Linked DNA regions of Homo sapiens. The protein of the gene in region 3 purifies or fractionates together with the protein of the main gene of each other region. This does not show direct contact. Each region holds a gene or a part of one and is shown on either strand. Other genes may lie near its edges.

Region 1 (3,654 bases), on a different chromosome or scaffold from region 3:
TATATCCTGCGGGAGGTACTGCTCTAAGTACTAAAGATATAAGTAAATTTAGTCATGGCCCTTGCTCTCATGTGGGTTATTGGCCTCGTGAAGGAGACAGAAGTAGGATAATAATTACAATTTTCAGTGATGAGTGCTATGATTCTAGTATAGAGATGTTGGGTGATTTGGTAACAAATGAGATGAACATTAAACCCTGAGGTAAGGTGGTAAAAAGCAAGAGAAGGCTTAGAGAAGGAGACATCTGAGTAGAGTCCTGAAGAATGGAAAATTTTTCTGCAGGTAAATAATTGCAGAAGAAGAGGAAAGTACAGAAGTGAGAGCTCCTTAGAGGAGCTCTGGGTGGCTTAGTCTTCCAAGGTTTGATGGAATGGAGCAGGGAGATGAGGCTGAAGAGGGAGGTAGGGGTCAAACCACTATGGACTATGTGCATTCTACTAGTAAGTTTAACTTTATCTTAATAATAAGGAGAAATTCTTAAGCAGATTACTGACATGATCAGGTTTAGTTTTCTCATTAAGGTAATAGAACATGCACAATTGAAACCATTACTGAAGTAGGGCTATGGCCTTTTGCTTGCCTTTTTCCCCTTAAATTTCTAATAGTGTGCTTGATATTTAATACTAATGGTGTAACCTGTGTACTAATTGTTTCAGTTTTTAACTATCCTTCCACAGTCATTCACATTTATTTTTTATTCTACCCTAGTGCTAGACATTTGTTTATTCTCCATGAATATTATAACTTTATTTGTTTATTCTCCATGAATATTATAACTTGAACACTGATGAAGCATATTAAGAAATGATTTCTAATTGCCAAAGCTGTACCAATCATAGCTAGTTTTAGCCTTTGCTTTGCAAAACCAGTCACCATCTTAGTCCTCATTTCCTTGACATATTTACATTTGACATAGCTCACCTTTCCCTCCTTTTTGAAGTATTTGTTCATTTGGCTCCTAGGACACCATTCGTCTAGTTTTCCACTTACTTCATTGATCACTCCTTCGTATGTTTGGCTGGATCTTCCTCATCCATCCCCCTAGCCTCCTGTCCCAGTCTCTAAACTTCGGAGAGCTCCAGGGCTCAGTCAATGAATCTTACCTCTTGTTTCTTGATATTTACTCTCTCAGTGATCTCATCAGATCTCATAACTCTAAATACTATTTTTTTCATGAATACTTAAAACTTTGTATTTCCAGCCCAAACTATCTAATTGATATTAACACTTGGAAGTTTAATAGGGTTTCAAACTAAACTTATGGAAATAAAATGCTTGTTATTTCTCTTAAAAACAGCCTCCCATCTCAATTAGCAGGGATTAGAGTTCAATCATTCTGACTCTCTGGGCATTGGAGTGTGTTTCATAAGGTTTAAGCTGCAGAAAACATAGTTCTCTCTAAGTTCTTAACAGATAAGGATTTATTACCATTTATTAAAGAGTTTTCAGAATTGTCCGTAGGGCTGAAGAAACAAATTTTAGGTTGAACTTTCAGAAACAAATCCTCAAGCTAGCTATACCACAGTATCTACAACCAAGGGACATATTGCTTTCTCCATAATAGAGAAGACATTATTCTGAGAACCAAAGTGCCACTGGCACAGTCAGGAAAACACCATAGCCATGTTCCTCCTCATGAAACTTCAGAACAGTCTCTGAACTGCACCAACCAGCATCAGAGAAAAGATTGATCTGTATCTTATTTTGTAACACAAAGTTGGCGAATATCTAGTAGTACATATGCTATTGCAGAAAAGGAAGGAAAGAAGGAAGGAAGGAAGGAAGGAAGGAAGGAAGGAAACCAATGCATCTGAACTGAGCTGTCAGAAAAAATAGCAGAAGTAGCAAAAATGAGACACCTGCCTACCTCAAAGAAAGAAAGAAACATAAACTGTGATGCCAGCAAAAATAACAGAAGCAGCAAAAATGAGACACCTGCCTACCTCACTTTTGGCATTCCAATCTTGTTCAAGCACGTCTGACCGTCCATGTTTAAATCCAGAACTCTGGTTTCAAGAGATTCTGCAAAATTTGGAGGTTTTGGTTTATTTTCGTTTGAATATTTCTATCATCTACATTATGAGAGGACACTGTAGAAGGAAAATGAAACAGATATTGAGCTTCAATTTAGCCTATATGTCTATTCTTCTCATAGTTAAACTTTTGATTTCTGTATTATTATACATTATTGGAATAGGTGCATTTTATTGAGATCCCAATTACTAGTGGCTTAAACAAGACAGAGGTTTATTCCTTTCTTGTAAAAGTGTGATCTGGTAAAAAGGTTCTAATCTGAAAAAACACCAAGGACCCAGGTTTCTTTATTTTTTAGCATGGCTGTCTCTGCAGGTTCCAGATGGCTCACCTCTGTGTCCAACAGGGAGAAGACACTCTCTCACCTTCTAGAGCACAACTGGATTTTGCACATATCATTTTTGTTCACATTCCCTTGTCCTGACCTTAGCATGTGGCTCTAACTAATTGCAAGGGTGACTGAGAAATCCTTTCTTCTGGACAACCTTGTGATCACTACAAATTCTAATACTAAGGAAGATGGGCAGAATAGATATTAAGAGATACTAGCACCCTCTGACATAGTGTCCTTGACTTCCATCTTTATACCACACATCCAACTCATCAGCAAATTCTGATGGCTGTACCTTTAAATTATATCCAGAATCTAACCACTTCTCACCACCCCTATGGCTATCATGTTAGCCTAACTAACTACAGTCTCTTCTCTGGGTTTTTGCAGTGACTTCCTCAGTGGTCTACCTGCTTTTTTCCTTACCCATCCAACCACCTCTAGTCATGCTTGACAAAACAGCAAGTATTACCTTTAAGGATATAAATCAGATGATGTTACCCTTGTCTAAATTCTCCAGTGGTTTTCCATTAGACTCCAAGGAAAAGCCAGCATCCTCGAATTCTCCAATGTGGCCCCTATTACCTCATTACCTCTTCATCTCCTACTTCTTTTTTCCATGCTTTTTCTACTCCAATCACAGTGGCTTTCTTGCTACTCCTTGAACATGCTAGGTAAAACACCAGCCTGTTCCCTTGCACTTCCTATTTTCTCTGCCAGAAAGATCCTTCCCTGTTTATCCTCATAGCTTATTCATTTAATTTTTGTCAGTTTTCTTCCTAGGGTACATTCCAATTGGGATTCCCTTCTTCCTGTGAGAATCCCTGTTTGCCTTACTCTTGCCAACAATGGTTATTATTGTTCTTTTCTACCTTTTCTTTTGAAATTATCTCTTTAAAATAAAAAGATACATCAGCTGCATTTAAAAAATATTGTAACTGAATTTAGTTTTAATTTTTTTGCATATTTTTTTTCTACTTTTAGGTTGAATCTGATGCAGCACAGAACTATACTGTCTTCTACTCAATAAGTGGACGTGGAGTTGATAAAGAACCTTTAAATTTGTTTTATATAGAAAGAGACACTGGAAATCTATTTTGCACTCGGCCTGTGGATCGTGAAGAATATGATGTTTTTGATGTAGGACTTTTATTGATATGCCTGACTTTAAATTATTAAACTATGTTTCTTCTGATGCTTACTCCAGCTACTCTTTCCTCTCTCCTTGCATTCTCTTCTTAGAGGGTATCTTAGAGTCAATGGGAAATAGAATGTGCAACATTTTGGAA
Region 2 (4,405 bases), on a different chromosome or scaffold from region 3:
ACAGTATCTGCCATAAATCACCAACCATCATCACGGACTCTGAAAAAGAAAATGATGGTTTTATACACAATGATATTTATATAATATCCTTCTTTTTTCCCAGTATAAAACTTCCAAGTGAGCATGCTCTCTGATTCCCAAATGTCTAGCTTATTTTCTACTCTACTGAACTTTCTGGACCTCTCCCTATCAGTAAACTTAGATGAAATAGTAGAGAACATGATAAAATTCTCTAGAACACTCATGTAAGAAGTTTCTTTAAAAAAAATCATTGCAACAAAATACGGCAAGAGAGTATTTTAACCATGGTTCTCAGAGTTTCAACGTAAAGAATAGCTGTTTCACATTTTTATTCCTTTAATGTTCGTGGCCAGAGATAAAACAAATTTTGCCACATATTCAGCAAAACATTTAAGATTGTGCTTTAAGTGCTGAATTAATAGCATGCATAGCAGTGTGTGTGTATATAAATATATAAAATGTGTGTGTGTGAGTAATTGGTCATCCTATCTTTCAAATAGATTAAAAAATTTAACTTCTAGTAGAAAATGATTTTTTAATTTATCAAACAAAAGAGGTTTAAGAGTTGGTAAAGCACCTTCTTGCGTCAGGGCCTCTGCGCTCACAGGTGCTTCTGTCTGGCCTGCTGTAAACTGCAAATACCTTCGTGGTTCATTCCCTTATGACCTTCAGATTCCTATTCTAATACTGTCTGTCCAGAGAGAACTTCCCTGATTATCCTTATGAGAATGGATACCACCTCCATTCTCAGGGATCCTATTATGCCTCCTGATTTATTTTTCTCCTAGCATTTATCATTATTTAACGTACCATATGTTTTGCTAAGCTACTTATTAATTTGTCTGTTTTCCTACACTAAAACGTAATTTTCAGGGCAGGAATTTCATCTATTTTGTTTACTTAAAAATAACCCCAGCATCTCAAACAGGGTCTGACATCTAAGAGATGCTCAATAAATATTCATTACATGAACTATATACACCGACTATATACAAGATACAGACCACCCTCTTTTGCATAATGATTACTAGAAAATTTATTTCAGCTTCCTATGTGGTGTATCATGGCTTGTTGAGATGTTAAATGGAACAATAGTAGTTTTCCAGTTGATTTATTTTTTGTTTATGAAATTTTAAAATGCTCCTTTAACATGATAAATTGCCTCTTGCAGACATCCATCATCATTAATATGTTGAGTGTGTGTGTGTGTGTGTGTGTGTGTGAGAGAGAGGCTCATGTCCTGATTCATAAAAATCTGTTTCTGTGTTTTTAACAAAAGCTATTAGTACCTACCAGTATAATATGTTTGTATTATTAACATGAAGGTGTTGGCCACAAACCACTTTTCTTTGGGAATCTTGGAATGAATTCAATGAACAGAAAAAGCAGGACTAACCTGATCTTCATTCTTACTGGCAGCATCTGGGATGAAAATATAGAAACCAAAGTTAAGGAAATGTAAAATATTTAATAAACAAAACAAATAATCCATTTAATGCAGCATCTTGATTGCTTTAATGACAATATGTTGTAAAACCGCAAATGGTTTTTGAACACATTAAGATTTATCATGGCAAATAAAAGAAGGGCACTGGACCAGGAGATTAGTATATATACTCACAAAGGTCTAATCACTCAGAAAGTTACAATTACTTTGGAAAATAATACTCATGTGAATTCTAACCCCATCAAAATAGCTTATCTTCAAAAGGTCCTTTCGGAGTAATAAATGCCAGCCTCCCTTTTAAAATTACAATATAACATACACACAAAATACTATACCAATTATAATTTTGAAACTATATTATAGTTGAAACTATAATATAGCATTACATTTATAGGATATATACATAAAATTTAATTTTCTGAATTCTGGCAGCTCTACCTCCTTATTACAGCTGCAAAAGTTAGAGATCTGACAGAAGGTAAGATTAAGGTCACAGGCTATTATACTCTCTCATTAACATAGGCTCTTTTGTACCTACACACCTATTTTAGGAAAATGGGCATTATTTGTATATGATTTCAGACTATCTATGAGTTTCTCTTTTTAAAAATTTTAATGTTTCAGAGCAACGTAAGTCTAGGCAATTTGTGTTCTCTTAGGGTTAAATAGCAAATATAAAAATCTACCTTCCAGCTCCCACAAAAGTCCCTCACTCTTTGGGAGAAATGCTTTCAACCCATTTAGCATTTGAAAACACAAGACTAAAATAAGCTAGAAGATACCACTGCTTTAAAATAAGAACAGATGATTGAATTTTAAAAAATATTTCATTTATACCTATAACATTAAAATACATATATTATTTACAATTAAGTTTTAAATGTCTATTACATATATAAGAATATGCATTATGAATTGATACATTTAGCAAGAGGAAGATGAAGAAGAATCTATTCAGTTTTCTGAATTAATAAAGAATTAATGGAAGAATTTCTCATGGTTAGAAAATTCAGATTATCTCAAACTACTTGCCATTTCTAAAGATAACAACATAATTATAAAGCCACATATATAAATCTTCAGAACTCTGTGTCTGGCAAGACATTTCAGGATTATACATGCATACGTAAACATTTTTTGGCAGGAGTAGGGGGAGAAAAGTCCCTTCCCCAGGGCTTTGAGATGTGTGGCAAGAGGCTTAGATTACACACAAATTGCTCACCTTGTATGAGGCAAAGAGCCAAGGGCAGAAGCACTGACACTGTGGCTATCTTCATGTTGAAGACGATGCAAGTCGCCTACAGGTCCACTCCATGCATTGCTCAGCTGGTGCAGTATGACTGAACTCGGGGCGATGCAGTTTACTTTTATAAAGCACTGGTGACACCCACATAAAACCAGTTGTTCAAGGTCATGGGACTTATATACCACACCACTTTAGCTTCCATCCTTTAGGATCCTGTCAGGGTGTCAGGTTTGAACAGAGAATATCTATTTCTAAAGTAGGAATGTTCTTTCATGGTACCTCCCCCAGAACGCAATTGATGGAGTCCACAGACCCTACTCAAAGTTGAATATTCTATAATCCTATATAATAACCGAATTCCTCAGAAATACCAGATATACTACCTCGTAGACAAACATGTTTCTGACTGGACTCCCTTCATAAGTGGGAGAGGAGAGGAAAGGAAGACAGATTGGTTGTCCTACCAGTCAGGTATAGATTTAAAGATTTCCACATCCAGAGAAATCCAGGGTTCCTGTTCTGAAGTGTCTGAGTTCAGTGTCACAGACTCATATATATGTTAGAGTTGAACGACCCTAAAAGATAACCTGGCAAAATTCTAATGTTGAATATATAGGGAGGCAGGAACTCAGAGGAGCAATGACTTTCTCATAAGCAGACAGTTTAGTTGGAGCAGGCAGAGGAGGCATCCAGCACTTGCAAGCAGACCACACATATAACATTCTTTCCTCTCTGTACACTGCTTCATCCTTAGACATTAGAAAAGGCAGGAACGTTGGAAAAATAAAACTTGTATGTAACTACTTTTAAAACTTCTCAATCTGCAGGATATTTTATATTCTGAAGCCTTATTTTATATCCTAGCCAAACATCATAATCATAAACATTGGAGACTCAGTTTAACTTTCCATAGCCTATGATTACCCATATTACCGTTTGAAAAATTTGGCTCAATCAGTTTTCTCTAAATCATATTTCTTCCTGTATCATCCCATTATTTAGTCTCCCAAAAAGAAAAGAAGAAAAAAGTTGTTAACAATTATAAATGTGTAAATGTAACATTTTTCTAGAGAAAGTTTCTTCTCTTTAGTTGCTTCTTTCATCCTACAAGTAACACCTTTTTTCTACCAGCTTATTTTGCCCTAATAGCTTAAGAAAGCACCTGAAGAAACATGTGAAGATGACTGAAACCAGAGCCAAATTGTTTCATTCCAGTACTTCTCAAGATATTCACATCCACAGAAGAAAAGTTCGAGACTTTATCCAATTAAAGGCCTTTTTATGATGGTTCCAGAAAACTGATCAAAGTTGCCCAACTTAGGGAGTATGCCAATATTATGAGATTTATCACAGTGAGATAATACGTCCTTTCTTTTTTCTCTCATGAAATAATTTATTTCCTATAAAAATATAATCACTGGGCCAGGCACAGTGTATCACGCCTGTAATCCCAGCACTTTGGGAGGCCAAGGCTGGCGGATCATGAGGTCAGGAGATCGAGACCATCCTGGCCAAGATGGTGAAACCCCATCTCTATTAAAATACAAAAATTAGATGGGCTTGGTGGTACGCACCTGTAGTCCCAGCTACTCTGGAGGCTGAGGCAGGGGAATTGCTTGAACCCGGGAGGCGGAGGGTGTGTGAGTTGAGATGGCGCCACTGCACTCCAGCCTCAGCGACAGAGCAAAACT
Region 3 (3,588 bases):
CCAATGCCTGGTGCATAGAGAACACTCTTGTTAGTGCTAGCTATTATATGGTTTTGTTGTTGTTGTTGTTGTTGTTTGTTTTTTGTTTTGAGTACAGTCCTGTTTTCTTGGCTGTTGTGTATACGTTTTGATTCCCCAAATAATTGTTGTTACAGGGAGACAAATATCAAAGATCAAAAAGTTGGTGAAGAGAAAAGAAAAAGGGAAGATAGCATTACACCAGAAAGAAGGAAATCAGAGGGTGTTCTAGGGACTTCTGAAGAAGGTATGAATTAATGTATGTTTATAATGTAGTCTGTAGTCCTTGGGCTTTGATGTGCTTCAAAGTTATTTAGAAATGTTTCCCAGATGCTATACATAATCCTCCTACCTTTGATAATTTATTTTTCTCTGCAGTTCAGCTCAGGTTTTCTGTTAATTGCCAATCATAGCTTTATCACAAAAACAGTAATAACATCCAATTCTATTTCCAAAGCAAGCTTTTGCCCAGTCTCATCATCATTATCTTGCACGTTGTCTGGGGAGACGTTTTGCTGCTTCTTTTTTTTTTAGACAGTTTCACTCTTGTTGCCCAGGCTGGAGTGCAGTGGCACGATCTCGGCTCATCGCAACCTCTGCCTCCTGGGTTCAAGTGATTCCCCTGCCTCAGCCTCCTGAGTAGCTGAGATTACAGGTGGATGCCACCATGCCCAGCTAATTTTTGTATTTTTAGTAGAGACGGGGTTTCACCAGGTTGGCCAGGATGGTCTCGATCTCTTGACCTCAGGTGATCTGCCTGCCTCGGCCTCCCAAAGTGCTGGGATTACAGGTGTGAGCCACTGTACCCGGCCGATGTTTTGCTTCTAATTGTCCAACGTCTTCCAAAGAGTTTTAAATTTAGCTCACATAGATGCTTCAAAATCCAGTAATAAATCATATTTTATGGAATTTAAGTGGAGTCTACAAGTAATGTGAAAATTATAAATTAACCTTAATTTTAAAACTATTTTGATAGATTTTGAAGGCTTCTGATATGCCCTTTACAATGACGCTCTCCCATATTTAAGTTCTTCCTACTCAGGAAAGTAAGAGACTTTAACTCTTTCAGATCATCTGGTATTCCTTTCACCTCTTCCTGATTTCCTTCTCATTCTCCCCATCTCTGCCCTGCTTTGTGCCCCAGAATGCTGACCCTAGTGGACTGCATCTCCTGGGCTTCCTGTTTGCCAATGACAGGCCCCAGCAGAAGATTAGTGGGGCTAGAGAGAATTTGGGGTATTACTTTGCCTCACTGCTTACTTCAGCACCTTGTGCCTGGTAGAAGTGGTGTCTCTCCACAAGTGCGGCTTCTGTAGGCAGTCCATTCTTCCCAATTCCAGCTCTCATTAAGGTCTAGTAACTGACCTCTCATCTCCAACACTCAGTTCCTTCAGACTTAGGCTTCCCACTGCTGCTAATCACTGGATGCCTTGACATTCCTTGTTTGTTCCCTTAACTCTAAATAAACCTCTGTATGTAGTCACTTCACTAAGGATCTTTATTTGAACCAGCCGTGGGTACATTCTGTTTCCTCCAGAACCCTGACTGCACAGGGCCCAGAACGTGTAGGCATTTAGCTATTAATAGTATTGATTTCACTGAGAAGATAATACAGGGACTTTGTGAATTAGTGTCATTAGCGCCCATTGCTGTGGCAGAAAACTATAGAATGTTAGGAGGGGAAGCCCATTAATTGTGTTTTTAGAAAGAGTCTATCTGGCAGAATATAACAACCATTGTAGGTAAAACAGTCTACTCTAAATTAGAGGGAGCACTAATATGAATACTGGCACCCTTTGACCTAGAAATTAATCATGTTGTTTTTTCCTTCCTCTTATATTTCATCAAGATGAACTAAAATCCTGTTTTTGGAAGCGACTAGGTTGGTCCGAATCATCCAGGTAATGAAATATCAGATGTTTGTAGATCAAAAGTCATGTTTATAGACAACAGAAGCAGACTTAAAAACATTTACCAGTGTCTAAATACACATTAATGACAAAGACTCCAATTTAGACAAAGTTGCTTAATTTTTAAAATGTTAGTGTTTATAGTTAATTAAACTATAAAGTGAAATTAATGCCAACTTTGATTCAATAAGTGATAGAGTCAGCATAAGAACAGTTTTAGGCCAGGCACGGTGGCTCATACTTGTAATCCCAGCACTTTGGGAGGCCGAGGCGGGCAGATCACCTGAGGTCAGGAGTTCGAGACCAGCCTGGCCAACATGGTGAAACCCCGTCTCTACTAAAAATACAAAAATTAGCCGGGCATGGTGGCAGGCACCTGTAATCCCAGCTACTCAGGAGGCTGAGGCAGGACAATCGCTTAAACCCGGAAGGCAGAGGTTGCAGTGAGCCGAGGTCGCGCCATTGCACTCCACCTGGGGGATAAGAGCAAGACTCCGTCTCAAAAAAAAAAAAAGAACAGGTTTAATATGGAGAGAATACAGAAGATGCTGCTGTCAATTGCTCTGTAGTCATTTTGCATTTCCATGACACACTGTTGGTTATAATCGCCCTTGATTATAAAGACCAAAATTCCTTTCCCTTGAATTTAATTGAATAGAAAGAGGATGTGGTTTGTGTCTTTAAAAAACACACATACCAACTCGAAACTTCCTTTTTTGTTCTTTAAAAAACATGTGCATAGGATAATCGTGCTGGATCAGAGTGACTTGTCAGACTGATTGGAATTGGATCATAGACGGACTCCTGGCCTGAGTTTGAGTGTCCTGGTTGTAAGCTCCTTTCTTCTCTTTCTGCTTCAGTTGCTGTCAGGGCAGCAGTTCCAGTTCTGTAAGTCTCACTTTGTTCAGCTGCCACAATAGACATCATCGTTTGGCCCTCTCTGTTAGCAGCACATTCAACCATTTGTTTTCAGTCAGATTTCTGAAAAGTGAGAGGTAGTTTTGATAGTAAAAATTTTTGGTTGTGCCTAGAATGGCTTTGGTTTTGTTGATGTTAATTTTCAAAAACTTTAACTCTTGTTATATAATAAAATGTTTAATTTTAATAACAGATTTTGCTGTGTAAGATATATTTCTGAATTTGAGTTATTGGGAGTTGGGGGGAGAACTGCCACCCAAAGAGGCTTCAATTTCTGACAAATATGCAGCTACCGCTACCACCCATTATATATACTGGTACCAGTCATCTGTGTCTCATAACAGAACTACAGCCCATCCACTTGGCTGAGAGTGCCATATTCCCATTCCAGCTAGAATTGGCTCACACAATCAAAGTACAGGTAGTGGCCAGATGTGGTGGCTCACGTCTACAATCCCAGCACTTTGGGAGGCCAAGGCAGGAGGATGGCTTGAGCCCAGGAATTCGAGACTGGCCTAGGTAACAGAGGGAGTTCCCTGTCACTATAAAAAATTAAAAAATTAGCCAGACATGATGGTGCATGTCTGTAGTCCTAGCTACTTGCAAGGCTGAGGTGGGATGATCACTTGAGCCCAGGAGGTTGAGGCTGCAGTGAGCCGTGATTACACCACTGCACTCCAGCTTGGGTGCAGAGTGAGACCGTGTCTCAAAAAAAAAAAAAAGTAAGTACAGGTAGCAGTAA

The links.
Region 1: the proteins of TEX14 (region 3) and DSC3 purify together in Homo sapiens (affinity purification with mass spectrometry; one large-scale study listed by BioGRID and IntAct). This does not show direct contact.
Region 2: the proteins of TEX14 (region 3) and SPINK5 purify together in Homo sapiens (affinity purification with mass spectrometry; one large-scale study listed by BioGRID and IntAct). This does not show direct contact.

Annotation. Positions count from the first base shown.
Region 1 is NC_000018.10:31,025,611-31,029,264, reverse strand, and holds part of DSC3 (desmocollin-3 isoform Dsc3a preproprotein), read left to right. Parts: intron 1-3,349; coding exon 3,350-3,505; intron 3,506-3,654. UniProt on the Homo sapiens protein: A component of desmosome cell-cell junctions which are required for positive regulation of cellular adhesion. Required for cell-cell adhesion in the epidermis, as a result required for the maintenance of the dermal cohesion and the dermal barrier function.
Region 2 is NC_000005.10:148,062,385-148,066,789, reverse strand, and holds the start of SPINK5 (serine protease inhibitor Kazal-type 5 isoform b preproprotein), read right to left. Parts: upstream 2,811-4,405; 5' UTR 2,746-2,810; coding exon 2,691-2,745; intron 1,444-2,690; coding exon 1,418-1,443; intron 1,384-1,417; exon of another isoform or gene 1,315-1,383; intron 1-1,314. UniProt on the Homo sapiens protein: Serine protease inhibitor, probably important for the anti-inflammatory and/or antimicrobial protection of mucous epithelia.
Region 3 is NC_000017.11:58,556,130-58,559,717, reverse strand, and holds the end of TEX14 (inactive serine/threonine-protein kinase TEX14), read left to right. Parts: intron 1-155; coding exon 156-265; intron 266-1,867; coding exon 1,868-1,919; intron 1,920-2,670; coding exon 2,671-2,707; 3' UTR 2,708-3,040; downstream 3,041-3,588.